Regions from separate parts of the Homo sapiens genome. Here region 2 is linked to region 1. Evidence: fine-mapped expression QTL. A gene starts in region 1. The other region holds a variant in brackets. All regions are shown on one strand. Distances are between the middles of the regions. Region 1 holds the start of PAH (phenylalanine hydroxylase). Region 2 overlaps PAH (phenylalanine hydroxylase).

What was found. PIP is the estimated chance that this variant, and not a neighbour inherited with it, causes the effect.
Region 2: its variant is the best candidate, but not a certain one, in a credible set for the expression of PAH in prefrontal cortex (CommonMind, PIP 0.88).

The regions. Positions count from the first base shown.
Region 1 is chr12:102,914,989-102,919,384 of GRCh38, forward strand. It overlaps PAH (phenylalanine hydroxylase), which reads right to left and starts at 2,256. Exons shown (of 13, transcript NM_000277.3): 1 at 2,083-2,256. The coding sequence starts at 2,142.
Region 2 is chr12:102,869,080-102,873,475 of GRCh38, forward strand. All of the region lies in intron 4 of PAH (phenylalanine hydroxylase), which reads right to left. The region is part of intron 1 of LOC124902999 (a long non-coding RNA gene); the gene reads left to right. Among named protein-coding and RNA genes, the nearest start is that of PAH, 46 kb to the right of the region's middle. The variant G/T (reference allele first, on the strand shown) is at 2,432.

The sequences.
Region 1 (4,396 bases):
AATCCCTCAAACGCTCCATCCCCATGGCTTCTTGCTGATGTTTGGCAGTTTCTGTGGTACCGAATCTCTGGAGGCCCACCTACAGGAACCTCCTTTCCAGCCAAGCTGCTTTCTTTCTTGCCTTTTTAGCTCCTCATTAGAGTATTCACCAAATTTCCCTTTCCAAGATCTCACCTTCCTTAAAGGCTCTTTTGGGTCTCAATTCTCTTAGGAAATGTTTGTTCCCCTCAGCCCAGGTGCACAATCACTTCTTTATCTATGCTTTCCACTTGGCATTTGATGCCCACATGGTATTTCATAATAATTGACTCACAGAAATTGATTTGTCCTTAGTGCTCATCTAGTTAAACTCCCTTACATTACAGATGGGGAAAACTTAGAGCCAAAGGGAGAAAATAACTCACCTGAGGCCACATAGGTAGTGGAGGCTGGTCAAGAACTCAGGCTCCTAATTATCAATTTTTCTACATAATTCCCTTTGCTATGGACATAATATGGGAATTTAGTCCTGTTTCTTGCAAAGTAAAAGATTTACTCTGGTCCAGTCACCAGACAGTTAGTCAATAGCACTCCTAACAGCCTATATTTCACCATGCTGATCCCCCTTCACTTGCTCCATTTCTCTCCATGCACTTTGTAAATCAGTGTTTCTCAATGAGTGTTCCTTGGATCTTGACTCCAAAATTACAGGTGATTCCTTCTTATAATGCAGTTCCCTGGGCTTTACCTAAACCTGTTGAATCAAGTTGTCTTAGAATCTGCCATTTCAAAACCATCCCAGGTGATTCTTAACCATAGAAAATTTTGGAACCATTGATATATATACAGCCTATTTTTTTAATTATAACTTTTCCCTAAATGTGTCTGCAAATTCACATTTACTATATAACACGACACTACTTTGTTTGTTATTAATATAATTTGTGGATTCTCAATCTTCTAAGTGCTCTATAAAGAACTTTAAACCCCTATGCTTTCCTGATGAGATCCCTGCCCCTAACCCCTTCCCACAGTTGTGGGGACCGTATTGCCAGCAGCACCAAAACTATGTGCAGGATGGAGCCAGGACCTGTTCTGGGATCACTCTGACTCTCACGCTGTTCCTCTGTACAATAAGTTCTGTCTCCTAAGAGCCATGTACTATTTTCATAAGAAATTTTTTTTTTTAAGGATTCAAATAAAAATCAGTCCTAAGTTCTGCAGTCTTTCTAGTTATATTAACGTTAACATTAACCATTCTTTTCTCTCCAGCCTCCCTGTTTTCTACTGAGAACTCTTCTCCCTAATCCTACTGATGACAGGGGCCTGCAGACTTACATTATTTCCCTGGCCTGGGCTTTATGACTGAATCTCAAGAGTCCAGGAGCAGACTTCCTCCCATGGGTAAATATGTAGGTCACATTAAAGAATGTATTCTGCAATTCTTCACCTCAAGAAAATGCCAACAAATCCCGGAGAATGGAATATACCTTGGGCATTATTTCCAAGTCACGTTTAGGGTTCTTTCACATTCCATGCCCAGGGCTAACTCTTGGTCATTTTCCTCTCTGCTTAGTTTCTGCCTCCCCTGGTCTGAGTAAGTTTCTGTCTGAATTCTCTTCATGCCTCATCTTCTTCCCAAAATGAAAGGAGGATAGTTACTCACAATTTTGCCATTTTGATACCTTGCTGAGAGCACTTTATAAATATTACAAAAGAAATCTAGAAGGATTCCACATCCCATCCCAGATCATTAGGGACCAGCCCCTTCAGTGTACAGAAGAGTAAACAGACAACAGAGAGGGACAGTAACTTGTCCAAAGACACACAGCTAATTGGTGGCAGTTCTGGAGGCCAGATCCCCAACCCCCTAAAGCAATGGTCATTCATTCCTGTGAAAGCCACCGAGGACAGATGTTCTCCTACTTAGAAACAATTGTTGAGGACATTTGTCTGTTGACTTCCTGGATATTCTCATCAGCTTCCAACGAATTCAGACTTCTTACTGAGCTTATGAAACCAGGAAGCACCAGCAGTCTTCGGATCTCTTTCTCTGGAGGCCCAAATTCCCCTAACTGAGCAGCTCAGGCTGCCGTGGCTCACCTGTCCAAAGTCAGAGAGTTTCCTGCCCAAGCCTGGGTTTTCCAGGACCGCAGTGGACATGCTGGCTCCCCGGGAGTGAGGTCTCTGGCTTTTTAGGGCCTCAGGTACAGGCAGGTTTGCAAACAGCACGTGGGGCTGAAGGTTTTAACCTCGCACTAGGGAGGAGAAGAGAGTTACAAAGGGTGTCTCTTGCGTGGTGCATCTCCGCACAGTAACGCCCCTCGTGGGCGTTGTCCTGACGCAGGAGGCCAGGGCAGCCTGCCGGATGCTCCAGGTCACCTGCCCAGGACGGGCCGGAGGGGAGGGGCTGAGGGAGGGTGTGGGGGACGCAGGAGGCACCACTTCGCTGCCCGCCCTGGGTAAAGGGAAGAAGCCAGGGAGCGACGGGCCACCCAAGCCCCGTCGATTAGACAGGTTTAGGCACTTCCGGGACTCTCAGAAGCCTGGGAAGCGAGTTCTCTGCAATTGGACTAAGCCTGCGACCGTCTGGTATAACAATTATATGAATAATCCGCCCCCCTTACCCCCAGCTGAAACAGTCAGGATTCTCATTTAGATTTTTGTTGTTGTTGTTTTCCCTTCTGTTAACCTCTAAGCACACTGCCTTGCTGTGCGCTGACTTCAGAAAACTACAGCTAGAGGGCACGTGAACGCTGAGCACAGCAGGTAAAGAGCAAATGTAAGAGCGATCTGGGTTTAAATCCAGCCTGGTGTTCTCCAGCTATTCGCACAACTGCTCCTGAAGCTCGGAAAAGAGGGTGGTAGAGCCACCTTGCTGGAAGGTTTTAAGAATAGGAATAAAGAAATGCATTAAAATTTAGTACAGTTCTTCCACATAAACACTCAGTAAATGGAAGATATTGTTTAAAAGCAAATCCACATAAATTTGACAATAATTACTGAGACCTGTACCGTGTGCTTGGTGGTGTTCTAGTCTTTGGGAATACAGCAATGAACAAAACAGACTCTGCCTCCCCAGCTATGCTGCCATTCTGGTGGGCAGAAAATAAACATATAAATAAGTTTAGGTAGGGCTAAGTCTTTTGAAGAAAGTAAAGTAGGGGGATGGTCTATGAGTGAGCTGGTGGGATTTGGCCAGTGGTCTTCAAATAGTCAGGAAGATGCCATTAACCACACTTTTAGAGAAGACTGAGGGTGAGGCATTACTGACCAGGAGGTAAAACAAAGTATAAAAGAATGCTGGAAAGCAGGTTCAGAGGTTCAGAAAGGATGTGAAAACTCAGGGGCCTCAAGCCTTGAGTGCCTGCTTAATATTTTCCCAAGAGAAAGTAATGGGCTGTAAGAAAATAAGCCAATAATAAAGGTTGCTGGAAGCCCATCCCTCTCCTCCCACTGTTCTTTGACCAAGCATCTGAAAATAAATAAACAAATAAATAAATAAATAAGTAAAATAAAACTCAGGTTTAGGATTCAAAACAAGTGGTTTAACTCTTGGTTCTACCACTGATTTGGTCAAGCCCATGCCTCAGTTTTTTTTTGTTTTTTTTTTTTGTTTTGTTTTTGTCTTTAAAATGAGAATTTTAAGGGATATTTAGGATTCCTTAAGCCTTTATGATGTGCCAGGCTGTCTACTGTCTGCTAAGAATACAGATATAACAAGTGCAATTTCTGTCCAAAAGGAACCTTTAGGGGCCTGATGAATATTTCCCATAGTAAGTTGGAAGCTCAATGTTGTTAAATATTGAAGGCGAAGATCTTGATTTCCATCCTCAGGAGAATCTGTATTCTTTATCTGACTCCGGCATTTTTCAGTGTAGTAGACATAAAACATGTTGTATTCCTCAGCCTCAGGATTTTCTTACAAACATAATTTCATCCCTTGATGCTACTTGAGGGCAATGAATGTGACAACTCCAAAAATATTACAGGCATGCAATAAAGAAAAGCAAAGAATATTATCTACTTATTTGCATGCACACTCTGTCTTAGACACTGTGCCACGCTCTCCACGTGCATGGTTTCACTTCTTCCTCTTAACAATCCCATGAACTATGCACTCCCTTTTAATAGGCAAGAAACTGAGGCCTAGGAAGTTTAAACAAATGGCCCAAATTCAATCTATGTTTCACCCAACACCAAGGCACTGCACTGGCTCTCAAATACTTTTGCTTTCCTGTTTGAAATGAGGACAACATAATTTTTAGGACAACAAAATGATAGCTTTTCTTTCTTCTCCCCATAACAGCTGAAAATGCAACTCTTTTTTCTAATGTTTAATTTTTGTGGGAACATAGTAGATGTATGCATTCATGGAGTATGTGCAATATTTTGATACAGGCATGCAATGTGTAAT
Region 2 (4,396 bases), 46 kb before region 1:
GAGCACTGAAGTAGGAATCCAGGAAGAAAAGAGAATTCCTTCAATCCGTGGATTTCCACTTCATCATGCTGCTTCTAGGAATGAGATATCCATGAACAGTTCTTACCCCCATTTGCCTTTATTGTTTATCTTTCATGTACCTTGCCTAGGTGGTTTAAAGATTTTCTACTTGTGAAAATAAAAGCTAATGTAATACTGTATACCCAGTTGATATTATCAATTATGTCAATTATGTCATATATCAATTATGTCAGAGGAAATATGTAAGTATATAAATAAAATGATTAAAGAAATACACCAAACTCTAACAAGTGTTACCTCCAGGTAGTGGGAAAAATAAGTAACACTAACAGTTGTATTCTTGAAAACTATTTATGCTTTTCAAGTTTTCTAATGTGAGAACGGGTTTCTTTTAGAATAAAAAAAAGAAAATAGTATTAAATATCCATCTCAAATCATTTTAGTGAAGTAGCAGGAGATTCACACATTGGTATACAGGAACACACACACAGATAATGCACTATACAGATCTTCCATGTGGGAAGGTTTCTAACCATGACCCTTTCCAGCTCCTGGTTTCTAAGTTCATTATCAGCCTGCAAGGGGCCCCAACCAACCAGGTTGCAGGGAGTTTTGCTTTCTCAGTTACCAGTGGTCAGAGAGCTCTGTGGCCTGACGCCCAGCCTCTTGGGGATCTGGCCTTGCATTCCTTGGGCTACCAGACGACCACAGGGCCTCTGTAGCCGTCCATGTGGAGTACATTCTGAATCAAATCACAGTTGGTGATGACTGATCACCCTGTCTCAATTTAGACTAATAGCAGCAATTTCAGTAGCACTGCATGTAATTTATTTATAATCACCCTGTCTCAATTAAACTAATAGCAGCAATTTTAGTTGCACTGCATGTAACCAAGTATGTTTTGACAGGAAAATATATTGTTGGTGAAGGAGTGGTGAGGGGGAGGGGAGGGGATAGAAGACGGGAGAAAGTCGAGAGAGTTCTACAGGATGCAAGTCATGACATCAACTGAAGTCTGCATGTATTGAGAGGTATAATTTGTGTGTGTGGGTGGGTTTAGGGGAGAGGGTAACTACATATATGGAAAAGTCTTGAGTATTCTTGTAGACTGAGATATTTATTCCATCATTTCCTAATATCATAGCTAAGGTTAAACCTCAGAAGTGCTCTCTTTAGGCTAGTGAGAACACAGGTTTTAAAGTCAGAAAAGCTGTGTTGGAATACTAATTCATTTATTCACAAGGAGCATGGCCTGGGAGTGGCCAGTTTATCTCTCAGAGCCTTAGTTTCCTCATCAGTAAAATAAGACTGTCAATCCTACCTGCTTCACAGTGTTGTACAGTTTAAGTCAGGTAATGTCGGCAGCACATTAAGCAAAATTCTGAGCACATTGTAGTTGCTCAAAGCATGATGCATTTGTGCAAAATGGCAGGAAATCCAAAGACAGAGAAGTCTGGCTCAGAATATAAAAAAGATGTACTCTGGAATGGGTCAGTGATCCCCACCAGCCACAAGGGGCTTTTAAACCAACATCTACAGAATTCTTACCTTGCTGTGTATATTTCAGCTAGGCCAATAACAAGAGGCTTTTTGCATTTTTCATAATGTTTCATGACAACTGGGGGAAGGATGGAACACAGAAGACAAAAGGTTCAAACTGGCATTTATTAAGTAGCTGCCATTCCCATCCTATAGACATTGGTCAAGGAGGACTTGCAAACAGTAGACTAGGGGAGCACCGACCATGCCCAATCCCTTTGCTCACCCTACAATTGGCCAAGAAGCCTATTCTGGAAAAATGTATGTACCTAGTTGCCCAAGCCCATAAGCCAGGAGTTATTGTTTTACTTCCCCCTTCTCTCTTCCTTCACATCCAGCAATCAATTTCTGCCCATTCTACCATTCAAACATCTGAGTCTGTCCTTCCTACTTCATTCTCACTGCTGCACCTGCATTCGACCACCACCATTTCTTGCCTGACTATTGTAGCTGCTGGGTAAGTGGCCTCTCACCCCCTCCACTTCATCCCAAATTATATTTATAAAGTGCAAGTCTGGTGAGGCCACTTGCCTCTTCAAAAGCCCTTCAAGGGCTTCTCATTGCTATTAGACTATTGTCCAAAATATTTAGCACAGTCCACAAGGCTTTACATGATCCAGCTCTGTCTATGTGTCCAGCCCTGTGCTGACTCACTCTGGCCTTCCTATGATGCTGCAGAGTGCACTGGTCTTGCTTTAATTCCTTAAACACACCATGCTCTTTCCCACATCAAGGCCTTCACACGTGTTCTACCCTCTGAGTGGGACCCTCTTCCCCACTCGTTTAGACCAATAAGTCACTATCTGTTCTTTCTGTCTTCCTGGATTTTTCCAAAGTTTATTGGTTTCTCTCAGTGTGTTGTATGTTTCTC[G/T]TTTCAGATGGTCTCACATATGTTAATAATGATTAAACTCAGGAAACTCTTTTACATATCACTGGATTTTCAGGGCATAGCACACTCAGCATATCCCCAAGTAGAAGCTGTTCAAAAATTATGCAAAACAGGCCAGGTGCAGTGGCTCATGCCTGTAATCCCAGCACTTTGGGAGTCCAAGGTGGGCAGATCGCCTGAGGTCAGGAGTTCAAGACCAGCCTGGCCCACATAGTGAAATCCTGTCTCTGCTAAAAATACAAAATTAGTCAGGCGTGGTGGCGCATGCCTGTAATCCCAGCTACTCGGGAGGCTGAGGCAGGAGAACTGCTTGAACCTGGGAGGCAGAGGTTGCAGTGAGCTGAGATCATGCCATTGCACTCCAGCCTGGGTGACAAGAGCAAAACTCTGCCTCAAAAAAAAAAAAAAAAAAAAAAAAAAAATATATATATATATATATATATATATATATATATATTTGCAAAACCTAGGGCAAAAAAATTACTGTGTGCCTTTTAAATGTCATATGAGATCATTGTCTCACAAGCTCACTCTGTGCTCTAAGGGGACATATATTTACTACTTATAAAGTTACAATCACTTCAAAGTAGATGCTGGCTTTTTAGAAGACCAATAAGTTGCAAAATATTCATTTTATTATCAAATTGTAAGTTGTTTCTGCCTAGTAGAAAGGTTAAGACACATAATTATGGCTTTATTGTCTTATGGAACATTAATCACTTGTGCATCCATCTTTGTGACCTTATTCTGGCTTTCTATTTTCCGATGACCACGTGTACTTTCGTCTCTTGTATCTTTTCTGCACTATCTTTGTCATCTTGCTGGTTCCCTCAATAGTGAGTTAAATGGATCTTTGACAGGTGTTCACTATATACCTGCATGACAGTTATGTTTTTAACTTTTCACAAATTATGCTTGGATAGAGCAATTTAGTAAGAATGCAACAAGTCTTTGATGACTCAACTAGCTGACTGACTCTTAGAAGGAACTCTGACAGGGCCTCAGGTGGAGAAAATTAGGTGGGCAAAAGGAAGAGAAAAGGAGAAAAGTATTGAAAAATATAGTCTTGTTATTGGGCAATTTGCTGAAGAAGAAATTTCCTACAGGAGAGCAGGAAAACTTGATGCCCACACCTTGAAAGGTTAAAAACAGTTTCAGGCCTGGTGTGGTGGCTCATGCCCATAATCCCAGCATTTTGGGAGGCTGAGGCGAGCGGATCACCTGAGATCAGGAGTTTGAGACCAGCTTGGCCAACATGACGAAACCCCATCTCTACTAAAAATACAAAAATTAGCTGGGTGTGGTGGCACACACCTGTAATCCCAGCTATGTGGGAGGCTGAGGCAGGAGAATCACTTGAACCCAGGAGGTGGAGGTTGCAGTGAGCTGAGATTGCACCATTGTACTCCAGCCTGGGCAGCAAGAGTGAAACTCCATTAAAAAAAACCATGTAGTTTCAAAGACTTGGGTCAAGAAGTAGAAATATCCACAGAAGGACAGTTGTGTTGGCTGATATTTTCTTCACTAAGAAGCCCCCTCTATTGTAGATCTGTAGCCTAGACTCCAGTGCAGCTGCCAGGTAAACTGGAATAGGTAGCTCTGGAGTTGGGGGTCTATGTGGCAGAGGTTGCTGGTGCTCCCCAAGATCTGTCCTCTCTCCTTTGTTCAGAGAACGTTGCTAAACTATTTTCCCCCATCTTCTTTGCAGTTAGTAGTGGGCACGTGACTGAGCTCTACTCAATGGAATTTGATTGAAGGGATGTGAGTCATCTCCAGACATGGCCCATGAAAACTTCCCAGAAGCAATTCTCACTCTCTCTTCTCCCATCCACTGGCAGAATGAGTGGGCTCCAAGGAGTTGAAGGAGGGTACAGCCATTGGTGGAAGGAGGCTTGGTTCTGAAAGACTTTGTGGAGCAGTTTCCTTACTGACCCACATTGGAAGTGA